Homo sapiens: one gene and its partners. The protein of the gene in region 3 purifies or fractionates together with the protein of the main gene of each other region. This does not show direct contact. Each region holds a gene or a part of one and is shown on either strand. Other genes may lie near its edges.

What was found.
Region 1: the proteins of FAM184A (region 3) and SRM purify together in Homo sapiens (affinity purification with mass spectrometry, with the first as the bait; one large-scale study listed by BioGRID). This does not show direct contact.
Region 2: the proteins of FAM184A (region 3) and SPICE1 purify together in Homo sapiens (affinity purification with mass spectrometry, with the first as the bait; one large-scale study listed by BioGRID). This does not show direct contact.
Region 4: the proteins of FAM184A (region 3) and OFD1 purify together in Homo sapiens (affinity purification with mass spectrometry, with the first as the bait; one large-scale study listed by BioGRID). This does not show direct contact.

The regions. Positions count from the first base shown.
Region 1 is NC_000001.11:11,057,219-11,061,345, forward strand, and holds the start of SRM (spermidine synthase), read right to left. Parts: upstream 2,801-4,127; 5' UTR 2,726-2,800; coding exon 2,559-2,725; intron 2,128-2,558; coding exon 2,007-2,127; intron 1,675-2,006; coding exon 1,582-1,674; intron 1-1,581. UniProt on the Homo sapiens protein: Catalyzes the production of spermidine from putrescine and decarboxylated S-adenosylmethionine (dcSAM). Has a strong preference for putrescine as substrate, and has very low activity towards 1,3-diaminopropane. Has extremely low activity towards spermidine.
Region 2 is NC_000003.12:113,452,657-113,456,156, forward strand, and holds part of SPICE1 (spindle and centriole-associated protein 1), read right to left. Parts: intron 1,295-3,500; coding exon 810-1,294; intron 1-809.
Region 3 is NC_000006.12:118,961,464-118,963,664, forward strand, and holds part of FAM184A (protein FAM184A), read right to left. Parts: intron 501-2,201; coding exon 298-500; intron 1-297.
Region 4 is NC_000023.11:13,762,248-13,765,747, reverse strand, and holds part of OFD1 (centriole and centriolar satellite protein OFD1), read right to left. Parts: intron 3,405-3,500; coding exon 3,304-3,404; intron 2,033-3,303; coding exon of another isoform or gene 2,031-2,032; exon of another isoform or gene 2,004-2,030; coding exon 1,893-2,003; exon of another isoform or gene 1,889-1,892; intron 1-1,888. UniProt on the Homo sapiens protein: Component of the centrioles controlling mother and daughter centrioles length. Recruits to the centriole IFT88 and centriole distal appendage-specific proteins including CEP164. Involved in the biogenesis of the cilium, a centriole-associated function.

The sequences.
Region 1 (4,127 bases), on a different chromosome or scaffold from region 3:
CTTGAGAGCTGGCTCCTGCCGGCGGCTTGGGCTCCTCTCTCCCATCCCTACCCCCTCCTTCCAGACCAAATCGCCCCATCTGAGTGGCTTTCTTGTCGCTTCCTATTTTATTTATTTTTCGAGACAGTCTTGCTCTGCTGCCCAGGCTGGAGTGCAGTGGCACGATCTCAGCTCACTGCACCCTCCTGCCTCAGCCTCCCGAGTAGTTGGGATTACAGGCGCACGCCACCAAGCTGGGCCATTTTTTTTTTTTTTTTTTTATTTTTAGTAGAGACCTTGTGATCTGCCCGCCTCAGCCTCCCAGAGTGCTGAGATTACAGGTGTGAGCCACCAGCGCTTGGCCTGTTTCCTATTTTAGAAGGATGCAATTCCAACCTCTGGCCAGGAGAACCTCCCCCTCCCTGCACACGGCCACCTGCTTTTCACTGAGGTCTCAGCTCAAACGCCACCTCCTGGAGGCCTGCCCTGACCACCCCCCATGCATTCACAGGAACCCTGCCTTCTCCTGTCCCCCAGCCCCTGTCTTGCCTTCATCAGACCATCCTTTGATGTCTCTATTTTTGTTGTTTGTTTTTTTTGAGACAGATTCTTCCTCTGTCACCCAGGCTGGAGTGCAGTGGCGAGATCTCGGTTCATTGCAACTTCCGCCTCCCGGGCTCAAGTAATTCTTCCACCTCAGCCTCCCTAGTAGCTGGGTTTACAGACATGCACTACCATGCCCGGCTAATTTTTGTATTTTTAGTAGAAATGGGGTTTCACCAGGTTGGCCAGGCTGCTCTTGAACTCCTGACCTCAGGTGATCTGCCCGCCTTGGCGTCCCAAAGTGCTGGGATTACAGGTGTGAGCCACCACGTCTGGCCATCTGATGTCTCCTTTAACTAGGACATCAGCTCCTAGAGGGCAGGGACTGATCTGTCGTCTACCACTGTCCCCATACCCGGGCAACACCTGGCACGTAGCATGATTTTAGTGAGCAGCTACTGAGTGTAAGGGGTAACGTACAAATAGTTGAGCTGTCTTGGGGCCCTGCCTGGGGCTCAGATTAAAAATCAGCTTAGTCGGCTGGGCGTGGTGGCTCACGCCTGTAATCCCAGTACTTTGGGAGGACGAGGCTGGCGGATCACCTGTGGTCGCCAGGTCCGAGACCAGCCTGACCAACATGGAGAAACCCTGTCTCTACTAAAAATACAAAATTAGCCGGGCATGGTAGCGCATGTCTGTAATCCCAGCTACTCCGGAGGCTGAGGCAGAAGAACTACTTGAGCCCAGGAGGTGGAGGTTGCAGTGAGCCGAGATCGCACCATCACACTCCAGCCTGGGCAACAAGAGCGAAACTCTGTCTCAAAAAAAAAAAAAAAAAAAAAATCAGCTCAGTTTTAGTAAGAGCTCGCCACGCAGGTGCCCTCACCACCTGCCAGGCCCTCTGCCATCTGGTTTTCCTACTGAACCCTCCCCGACCAGGTGTTTTCCAGATGGAGAAACAGGCCCTACCTGCCTTGCTCGGGGGTGTGCAGCCATTTCAGGGCACAGCTGGCCGCTGGGAGAACCAGGACTCAAACCTGGCTCTACGCCGGCACTCACCTCGTCGATCTCACACTGGACCACGGACTCCACGGAGGGGTGCTTCACCACCTCCCGCAGGACACCTCCATCTCCGCCCCCGATGATCAGCACCTGGGAGGAGGGGGCAGTCAAGGCAGGGGCCCTGGCAGGACTGGGAGCCCCCAGGCCCCTGAAGCAGACCCCCTGACCCCTCGGACCCACGGGCCTCATCTTTTTCTACCCTCGGAAACGCTTTCGTGCCGGTGTCCCCTTTCCTGGAAGTTCCTTCCAGGGCTGCCCTAGGATTCCGAGGCCGCGTCAGTGTCGGCCCCCACCCCTCCGCGGGACGCCCCTGGCCTCGCTAGCACTTTCTCTGACAACCATGCAGGCAGCATCTGGGAAGAGCCCGGAGCACACCTGGGGCCGCCCCTCGTCCGGCACTGTTCCAGGGGACACTGGGGTACCTTTCGCGGGTTGGGGTGGCTGCAGAGAGGCAGGTTGGCGATCATCTCCTGGTAGGAGAACTCGTCTCTCTCCGTGCACTGGATGACACCGTCCAACACCAGCACGTTGCCATAGGTCTTACTGCGGGCGGAGTGACAGTCGGGGACCTGGGTTCTCTGGGGTGGGGAAAACGTACCCCAAGCCGCCCTGGGTGAGGAGGGTCTCCCCATCCCGCCTAGGGGTCCCAGGGATGAGGAGCGATGGTGACACGTGGCGAGGAACGGCAGGCGGGCCGCCGGGTGGAGGCCGGGGTGGGACCCGGGGTCTCCTCGGGCTCTGACGTGTCCTGAGGGCTGACACGTGGAGCGGGGCGCAGACTCCGACTCCCCCACCCAAGAGGCCAGCCCGCAGTCCCAGCCCCAGCCCAGGGAGGCGGTGTGAGGGGTGGCGAGGGGGCCAGGGCAGGACGAGGTCCAGCCCGCTTGGGTCCCGGCGTGGAGAGGCCCGTGAGGCGGGCAGCAGGCGGCCCGGGCTGAGCCTAGGGGGCAGGCGCCTGCGGGCAGCGGCGGTACCTGCGGAAGACGAGGATGTCCTGGTAGCGCGAGCGCCGGTGGTGGAGCAGCTGCTCCACCTGCAGTGACAGGGCCTGGCCGGGCCACAGGCTGCAGGTCTCGCGGAACCAGCCCTCGCGGATGGCGGCGGGGCCGGAGGCGGCGGGGCCGTCGGGGCCGGGCTCCATGGCGGGCGGGCGGGCGGCGCGGGGCGCGGGCCCGGGACTGCAGGCCGCGCGGCGCCGCAGCACAACGGGACCAGCTCCGCCCGCCGCCCGCGCCGCAACCTAACCCGGGCGCGGGGCGGGGCCTGCCGGCGGGGGCGGAGCCCGCGCTCGCCAATGGCAAAGCGGCCTCGCCTGGCGCTCATTGGCCACCGGCTCGCAGAGCGGCGCAGAGTGGCTGTGGCGCGCCGTCCGTCGGCGGCAGCAGGGTAGTGCGGCCCGCTCCAGGGGCCACGTGGGGCCCGGCCGGGGCCGGGCGGCCGGGTCGGGTTCCGGGGCGGGCTGGGCCGGCGGAAGGGGTCCGGGTCCTTCCTCCGCCCCAAGCAGCCGGGGCGGTGCACCACCGGCCCCCGCTTCCTTCTCGGGGTTGGGAGGCACCGAGGGCCTCGAGGGGCTGCGGGACTCGGGCTTGGTGTGGAGGGCAAGAGCGCTGCGACGTGCGGACTGGAGAGTCAGCCTTTGGGCTGGAGACACGGGAGCGGGTGGCTACAGTGGTTTACGTTGTTGCACGGGGCGAGTAGAACGTATCCTTCTTTGCGTCCAAAATCTGGTTCCTTGTTGGATTTGAACAGATTATGTGGCTCGTCGGGGCGAACCGAGGGTTTTTATTTACTTGGAAAGAATCATCACAGCCCGCGAATTCACAAGCTGGATTTAGCCATTTTCCCTTAGATTCTGCGCCATGAGCCTATAGGCTGTTGAATACGAGAGAAGTGCTTTTCTAAACGAGTTTCTAAATTTACCAGCAGTGTCCAGGAAGAGGCCCAGAACATACATATTCAGCACCAGAAAAGACTGGCACGCAATTTTTCTTGACAAACTGGGTCTTGCTCTTTGAAGGGTGGGTGGGAATGTGCTGTTTTTATGAGAATGTCAAAGAACTTCTCAGAATCACATTAAGCATGCTAATTACCAAATATTAAATGCTAATTGTTCCACACGCAGTTCGAATGCCAAGGAAGGAAGATGAAACTAGTATAAGCTACTCTTGACATTATGTCAGGGATGGTTTTGACACGTTTTGCAGCCTCCACCTGGAGGTGGGGAACGTTTCCTGTGTCGTCCCCAGAGCAGAGTAACAGCGTTGTTTATGGGTGAGAGCAAGCCTCAAGCCTAGGCAACAATGTGCCTTGCTTGCTTTTAAGCTCCTTCTAAAGGGGAGGTAAACCAAGACCGCTAAAGAATTGCTAGGTGCCTGGGCGTGATGGTTCACCCCGGTAATCCCAGCACTGTGGGAGGCGGAGGCGGAGGCGGGCGGATCACGAGGTCAAGAGATCAAGACGATCCTGGCCAACATGGTGAAACCCCGTCTGTACTAAAAATACAAAAATTAGCTGGGCATGGTAGTGCGCGCCTGCAGTCCCAG
Region 2 (3,500 bases), on a different chromosome or scaffold from region 3:
CTGAGCAACAGAGTGAGACTCCATCTCAAAAAAACAAAACAGGCTGGGCGCAGTGGCTCATGCCTGTAATTCCAGCACTTTGGGAGGCTGAGGCGGGCAGATCACGAGGTCAGGAATTCAAGACTAGCCTGACCAACATGGTGAAACCCCGTCTCTACTAAAAATACAAAAATTAGCCAGGTGTGGTGGTGCATGCCTGTAATCCCAGCTACTTAGGAGGCTGAGGCAGGAGAATCACTTGAACCCGGGAGGCAGAGGTTGCAGTGAGCCGAGATCATGCCACTGCACTCCAGCTTGGGCAACAGAGCAAGACTCCGTCTCAAAAAAAACAAAACAAACAAACAACACACAAAACAAAACAAAAAAACCACCTCATTTCTATAGGAAAATCCATTCTATGTCCTCAAAAATTAACTACTCATGAGTTGAGGGCCAATACTCTTTTATGAGCCATTTTAAAAATAAAAATATTTTCAATTAACATGTGGCTGTGTGGCAAACATTCAAGTAACATTAATTCTATATTTTATACCTAAAACTTCATTCCTAACTTAATCTTAGCTTTCCTACGCATTTTATCTTTGTCCTATTTTCATTTATATAATTTCCCTTTTATGCTGTCTTGTATTGTATGTACAACAGACTGATAAATAACTTGGACCTATTGTATTGAGGACATGCCAAACATAAGCCATCTAGCCTCAAAGCTTTCTAGGATCACTTCTGAAAAGAAGTTTCTTAAGTTGCCCAAGCTAAAGTTCCTATTTAAATTCCTATATGTCCCTAATCAATCCTTAAATGGTACTCACAGAAGTCATGTCACTTGCACTTTCTTGTTTGTTCAACTCCCGGAGTCCATCCCCTTGCTCTCCTCTGGGCTCAATAATATTATTCATATGTGCCTTGATAGCTGAATTCTGCAATGTCAAATCAGCAATTCGTGTCATTATGTCCTTTCTTTGTATTAATGACTCATTTGTTCTCAGCTGCTGCCCATCTCCCAGTACTGGGAGCTCTTCTGAGAATGTGGGGCTTCTTGACTGTTGAGTGTTGGAATGGGAATTGCAGAGGGGCTGTGAGAGGTTAACAAAAGGAGCCTGAGTTTTGTTCTCCAAATCTTCTCCCATGTGAGAGACTCTCCATCTCTGAGTGAAGAGACGATTCTCTTCACTTGAATTCTGAATGTCTGTATCAATAGGTAAGGTCTTCTCTTCCCAATTTTGTTCCTTCTCAATTATTTCCACAGTTGGAGGAAGTCGTGGAGCAGGACGAGTTTGAACAGTCCTTCTCAATACTATAGATAAGAATTTAAAAATAACAAATATGTATTATTTTCCCATAGATTGGCACTATACTCATTTCATTAGCCCACCATGGTAGTTAGAAAAGTATTTCAGTAGAAGGGTTTGGCTTCTGAATGCTTAAACTATTTTCAGCAGAGAACACACCAGCAATGCCGCCCCTCGTAATCAAGTACAGAGACTTTTTACATTCCTTAAAGCATTTGTTAGTACCCTTGTGAAAAACCATCTGTCAAGTTCACATTTTAACGCATATATTAACTCACATCTGGGAATCTTGGGGAATGAGGAAGTGGGTATAAGTACCCAATTTAAACAGCAGATAACCAGGAAAGGCCTCTCTGAGGAAGTAAAATTTTTAAATGATTACATATGTAATAGGAACTGAGCAAAGGACATTACAGGCAGAAAATGACTGCCTTTAGGGGTATGTACTGTGAAAGCTGTCAGAATCAAAATGGAGTCATTTGGCCGGGCGCGGTGGCTCACTCCTATAATACCCGCACTTTGCAAGGCCAAGGTCGGCAGATCACCTCAGGTCAGGAGTTCGAGATCAGCCTGGCCAACATAGTGAAACTCAGTCTATACTAATAATACATATTTTAAAAACTAGCCAGCCATGATGGTGCACGGCTGTAATCCCAGCTACTCAGGAGGCTGAGGCAGGAGAATAGCTTGAACCCAGGAGGCAGAGGTTGCAGTGAGCTGAGATTGCACCATTGCACTCCAGCCTGGGTGACAAGAGCGAAACTCCATCTCAAAGGAAAAAAAAAAAAATCAGACATTTGTGTCAGAGCGCAAGTGACTTTATCAGAGTCACTTTATCAGACACAAGTGACTGATAAGTGGAGCCTTAAAAAGCCAGGAAGGAAGGGTTCTCAGGCATGTATGACTGATAACAAGAACTGTTCAAGAGACTTCAAAAACCAGAACCTTGCACAAAGGACACCACAATCTTACACAAAAAATAATTCTGCGAGGACATTTGCCCAACATCTGCCTATCCAACCTTAGACTGATGCCACCCTTGTTATTGATCCTTGTAGCCAAGGATAGTTATCTCAAAACAACTTAAATAATCCTCCTCATTTCCCCTTTAAAAACTCTTGTCTTCCTTTACTTCCCTGAATATGCCCACCATATTCCCATTGCAATTCTCAATCTCAAATAAATATCAGTTTCTTTTAGAGAGCCTTTCTCTGGGTTAAATTGACAGTACTTTTTAAAAAACCATATACAAATATGAATTCGAATGAACGCTTTAAAATAAAGGATGAATGGGAGATCAGAAAATGAAATGAAACTGCACACCAATACACACAGACACACACACCCACTACTCGTTCAAGAAGCATGGCTGTAAAGAAAAGCAGAAATAAATCAATAGCTAGAGGAAAATATTTATGATGGGAAATTCTACAGCAATAGTGTCCAATATGGCAGCCTCTAGCTATATGTGGCTATTCAAATTTAAGTTAATTAAAATTAAATAAAATTTAAAATTCAGTTTCTCAGTCACATAAGCCACATATCAGGTGCTCACTAGCCCCATGCAGCCAGTGGCCACCATTCTGGATGGAGCAGACACAGAACATTTTCATCAACCCAGAAAATTCTATTAGACAAAGCTATCCTAAAAGAGAACTGAATGCTGATGAAGGGCCCTATGTATCACCCATTTTCATCTGCATATTCTGTTTAACTGAATAATTCTTTATATGTGAGTATTCCAAACAATGCTTGAAAAATATAATAAAACATCACCAATTCAAATACATATTCACAAGCAGCTGTCTGCACATTATAAAATAAATGGGCAGTTATTTTAAATACAAACTTGCTGAAGATATTAACAAAATGTTGTCTATAGCAATCCCTGACAAATTTGCTTTAACAAGCATTTAGTACGGTTGTGATCAGAGTAAACATATTTATTGTAACTGAAGCCCTCTGAAGAGGAAATACTGAATCATACAATGATAGAGCTGGAGGGAACATTAAAGATAAAGAAATATCTTCTCATTTCATAGATGGAAAAACTTAGGTCTAGAAAAGGTAAACTATCTGAGCCTCATGCCTCACAGCTAGTCAACAATAAACGGGCCAAGATACCAGCACGTCTGACTCTCAGCCTGGCACTGTCACCATTGCACCATACTGATCTGACAAATGCTACATCTGCATTATAAATACCAAAAC
Region 3 (2,201 bases):
TTGGTGACAATACTAAAAATAAAGTAATTGTGCATAATATTAAAATTCTAATGATATAAATTACATTAACACCTCTTCAAGTACTTAGAAAATTGACTGATGACCACAAATTAGAAAAAATCTTTTTAACACAGTCAAAAGGAAGTTCTCTAGAGAGGGGATAAATATACTTTGAAGAAAATATTTCATAGTAATTTTTCTTAGGTTGTTCTTAAAGTAGTGATTTCTGCAATGTAAGAAGGTAAATTTCTCAAGTTAAAAAAGAAAAGAAAAAAACATTGGTGAGACGGGTCTCACCTCAAAAATGTCTTGGGCCCTTTAGGTGGCACTGGCTGTGGAAGTGGTTTGCTGCTGTTGAACTCAATATCGTGGACTGGAGAATTAGGAATGGGATCCAGGCGGTTAGGATGTCCATTGCCCACTCCACCAGATTCCAGAGCACTTAGATTGGGAACACTCACAAACCTGTTTGTTGGTGATTTATCATTCTTCTTCTTTTGCTGCATTAAAAATAATACATGTGAGGATAGTCCCTGCATGAGGACAAATGAGAAAATAGGAATGGTAGAAGATAGAAATTTGGCATGGGAAAATTTTGGAAGCTTTATGTTAAATTAAAATGTTAATTAACCAGTGTTACCCAAACTGTGGTCTGGGAATCCTTGGAGGTATTTTTTATCTACATGGAATCCTCAAAGACAGACATGCTACCAGGGCAGAAAGAATGAGGAAGAAACATTTAGGAGTCATTCACGAGGAATGAGAGAGAAGGTAAAAAGAGTGCCAAGGGGTAAAGAATACCCTTTTGGGAAGAAAAGGGAAAAAGGATTAGGGGAGAGAGCAAGTCTTGCAGATAGAAGGTTAAATGGATTTAGGCTAAAATTAGGAGAAGGGGTAAAGTTAAACATAATTTTAAAAGAGAGTCCATGAAATTTAGCCATCTGTCAAAGGGAGGCAGTTCTTGCCTGGAAAAAAAAAAAGGAATGAGAAAATGCTTGGCAATGTAGTTTGAAACAAATTGCACATTTCTACTAAAGACCTAAAGCTGACTTAAGAGAAATAATCTGGTTTTAAATTCACTGTGACATCTATCTTTCTGAAGAGAGAAAGTTATATCTGCATAATTAAGTCTAATTTCCATATTACTTGGCAGTATCATTAATTGGCTCATATTTTTTAAACTTTAAAGGTTACAAAACAATAGTAATCAGCTGATTTTTTAATGTGTCTTTAAAATTAAGAGATAAAAAGACAAATTCCACTGCAGATTATCAAAATCTATCAGCTTGCAATTCACTAACTTTAGTCTCAAAGTATTTTATTCACATCTCTAGAATCAATGATCATCATCTTGCTATGAGAAATAAAAATTAACATGTTACTAGATATTTAGAATATTCTCATATTTTACTAATTAGATGTATACCAATTAAATTTGTAAGCTTTTTAGGGAAATAACTCGAGTTTGGGAAAAAATGCAATTAATATACAAGATGGAACTTTTATTTTTATTTATCTCATTGTCTAAACATTTTCCTCTGTCATATTCTGTGACTTGTAGAGTCTCTGATGAAAATCCTATTTTAGCATAACCAGAAAAAGAAAATAATAATAATACCTTCCTCAGAACTATTTGTGAAAACTAAAGTCACTATTAGGAGTCAAAAGTAGTTTGAAAGTTCTTACAAAGATGTATCTTTTGCATTTTCTTATTCTAGTCACCAGAGGGCATAATTAAACCTACTTAAGGTTTCTATTTTAAGAAATCAAAAGAATACTGGTAAAGTTCTACAGTAATCATTTTGCAGCTAAAAAATTTAATTCCAATAAAATAAATAAATGAAAAGGAGTATTTTTAGTATATCTTTTTTTCCACAAACCTCATAATCTTGCTTTATAATTAAAATCTTATTTCACCCTAAATTATGAATTAAAAAACTAAAACTAATTATAATTATTCATTCACCAATTATTTACTCAGAGCTTTCTATCTGCCAGGCAGTATTTTAGACTCTGAGATACAGCTACATGCCACTACAGTCATTCTATTTTAGAAAACATTCAAGTTTAAAGTTTGGAACACTTTAACTTGTAAAGGAAGGATAGATTCAGTGTTCTTAATAGAGAAGTTTTACGAGCTGTGAAAGGAAAGGAAAATTTCTGGGTAAAGTCCTAATAAAAATTAGGCATGACGTGAAACT
Region 4 (3,500 bases), on a different chromosome or scaffold from region 3:
ATTAGACCCCAATCCCAGAGACAATTATGCTGACCTTTCTCTTCTGGCTCTGACCCATAACCTACATTTTTTTTTTCAACCCAAGCAATGCTAATAAGTAGAAAAATTCATAGGTTCAGCAGAGGACTTTGAACCTTTTTGCTGTGCCTTGTTCTAAAGTGATCAGCAGGAACTGAGTTTTACTAATAGGAGAGAAGCAACACAGTTTCTTCTCTCTCTCCCCCATCTCTTCTGAATCCTTCTCATGAAATTAAAATACCAGAGGAGACAGCTGATCATTTCCACAGGCAGAAATGCAACTTCCTCCTTGCTAGAGAAGAAAAAATAGTTACTCCTAAACAAGATTGCTTTCTTATATGGAATAGTAATCTCAAAATAGGAATGTTGTTTAAGCACCAATTACAAAATAAAGAGGAAGAGTGAGCTGCTTCTCTACTCTGGTGTATATTTTGTAGCTGCAGGGTGGTATACAGAAATCTCTTGGACACAAGGGGAAAGGAAGGAAGCATGTCCACGGGGCACCTCCGAGACACCAAATTTCAACCTTTTTGAATTCCCTTTGTGCCCAGATGAAGAGATGAAATGACAAATATAACAATTTCTCAATAACTAAAATGTCACTCGCCATGCTGCTTAATAATTTTTAAAGCAAATATTATAATCTATGTTCCATCTCAGCAGCAGAACACCTAGTTACTCAGTTGATTTCCCTTATCCTATCACATTATTTGTATTCCCTCGCTCAGGTCTGTGCCAAATGAGTGCCTGTAGACACTCCCTCTTGTGGCCACGGCCCCTACTCAGCTGCTGCAGCCCCTCCCTGCTGCGGTCCTGGGTGATGGCCTGCTGACCATCTGCCTCCCCTGCTAGAAATCCAGGAAGGCGAGGGCTTGAGCTATATGCTCAGCGCTGAGCAAAGTGCCCAGCAGAGACAAGGCTCTAGATCATGTCTCACTGAATGCTTTCCAAAGCAGATTTACTCTGGAATCAGCAACATCAACCCTCTCAAAATCTCTTGCCTCTTTCAGTTATTTTATATGTTCCTGGGTACCATGACTAAAACCAAGAAACTGCTAACAGGGGTTTTGGGTATGATGTTTTTCCAACGTTTGGGAGGGACTAAGAGGTGGCTTTACTTGAGAAAATTCCTTTCAGATTTGAGGATTAAACACTTGGTCCAAGAAGAAAAGGACCTGGCTGTTGGCTGAGCCCTGGAACAAAGCACAAAGCTCCCACGGCTCTCTTCCCGTCTCCCTCCACCCGCAGGGAGGGAAGTGGGTAATCTGGAGGAGAAGAGGAAAAAGAGGAAGTGGGCCAGAGAAGAGAAGTCTGATGGCCAGTTTTCCTCCAGTGCTACGCTAACTCGGTGTCACAGCTTTTCCAAAGATTGAAATACGAAGTTTTTCTGTCCTAATTTCTTAAGACACAAAGGAAACAAGTAGATAGAAAAATAAATAATATTTAAATGTTACAATCATATTAAAGATATATGCTGGGAGTTAATTATTATTTCAATTTTTCACTGTGATTTCCCAAACTTTAAGGTTCCCAAGGAACAGTTTTTGCAGAAGAGTCTTGGGGAAAAGTCCAACTACTATGCCAGGCACTGAAGAGTAAATGAAAACACTTTTTAAGCAACTGGCCTGGGAAGCCTAAATGAGAAGCCTTTCCTTCCAACGTGTCCTTTCTCAGCACTGTCTTTACATGTTCACATGGGAATTACTTCAGAAATGTCATTAACAATATAATGACACCTATAACCCCCAACCCAAGATTTTGACTAATTTACACCTACAAGATGACTTCAGTGATACATGAAATAATTCACAGAGCACACGGACTGGTATTTAGTATGCGACCCTGCTGACTGTTAGTTCAAAAAAAGAACTTACTTGGGTGCTGATATGAGAGGGGCACAGCAGCTGCAGCAGCGTCCACATGAGACATATCCCCGGCAGGAGAAAGCCCGCCCATTTCCAACTGCCTTGGCATGTTCCCTGCAGCTGCATGAGGCACAATTGTCCCATGAGTCCTTAATAATAACACCAAGACAAAGAAGGGCAGTGCAGTGTGGGGGCAACTGACTGGAGCACGGGAACTGAAGCCAAAGTAACTGGGTGCGCCCTTTCCTAACAGGATTCTATGAAGTTCCCAACATAACCACTTGGCAACGTATTTGCTTGTCAGAGTGTTCTCGTAGTTGAAAGAATTAACTTTGTTTACAAAATGAGATTCGTTACCCAACAGGAAAATCAACCCAGTGACAGTGAAGAATTCAATTGGCTTGCTGATCATCATTTGAATTCTATTAAAATATCAATGATTTAACACAAAGACTTTAACAAATATTTACAAAATTTACCAAGCCCTCTCATTTAACTGTTCAAAATATTAACACTTTCAGATTTGAAGATGAAGTTTACAAGGCTAACCAATAGCTTATATGCAAATATAAAGATTTCTCAAGCTGGAAAGAACCTTAGAGATGATAGGCTCTACATGCTTATTTTACACTTACAAAGTGGCTACAAAGTAAGACAGTCTAAGGCAGGGCCATAGCCAGGACACCAGTTTCTGGACTCTTAATATTCTTTTATCTCTATTCTTTTACTAAAAATGAGGTTTTCTAAATCTGAGGCAATCAACTGAATCAGTATATTTAAAAAATAACATCCTTAGGCCGGGCGCAGTGGCTCATGCCTGTTATCCCAGCATTTTGGGAGGCCGATGCAGGCGGATCACTTGAGGTCAGGAGCTCAAGACCAGCCTGGCCAATATGGTGAAACCCCATCTCTACTAAAAATACAAAAAAACTAGCTGGGTGTGATGGCATGCACCTGTGGTTGGTCCCAGCTACTCGGGAGGCTGAGGCAGATGAATCACTTGGACCTGGGAGGAGGAGGGAGATTGCAGTGAGCCAAGATCGGACCACTGTACTCCAGCCTGGGCAACAGAGAGAGACTCCATCTCAAAAAAATAAAAATAAACATTCTTGTATTCCATCAAAGGAAAAAATAAATAAAAATCACTTATTTAAAATCTGATAAGTTAATAATTCATTTATAAGCTTAGCTCAAACTCTGAAATTATTAGTCATACTGAAATTTTTAAAAAGTAAACACACACATGAAAATCATCATGGTAGAAAAATGAGGTGATACATCTGTACTTGTGGTTGTATCACAAAATAATAATGACCCAATTTGTAACTGCTTTTCTTTTTAAACCAATGGATACGTTTCACCAAAACTAAGCTTTCTAGATTTTCAACATATAAAAACTGGTATTTATATTTGAACTTACATTCAAAAGATGATTCAAACTCCTCATTATCCTTAAAAGCTAGCTTGTCCACATCTGAAAATTCACTTTTGTCTTGAAGTTCAGTTTGTCTTCGATAAAGACTAGATTGGAAGGATAAAACTCGTGAAGTTTCAATAATGGAAAACCAAAGAGTACAAGGTGACAAAAAGCCTTTTGTGACTCAAGAAAAGGCTCTA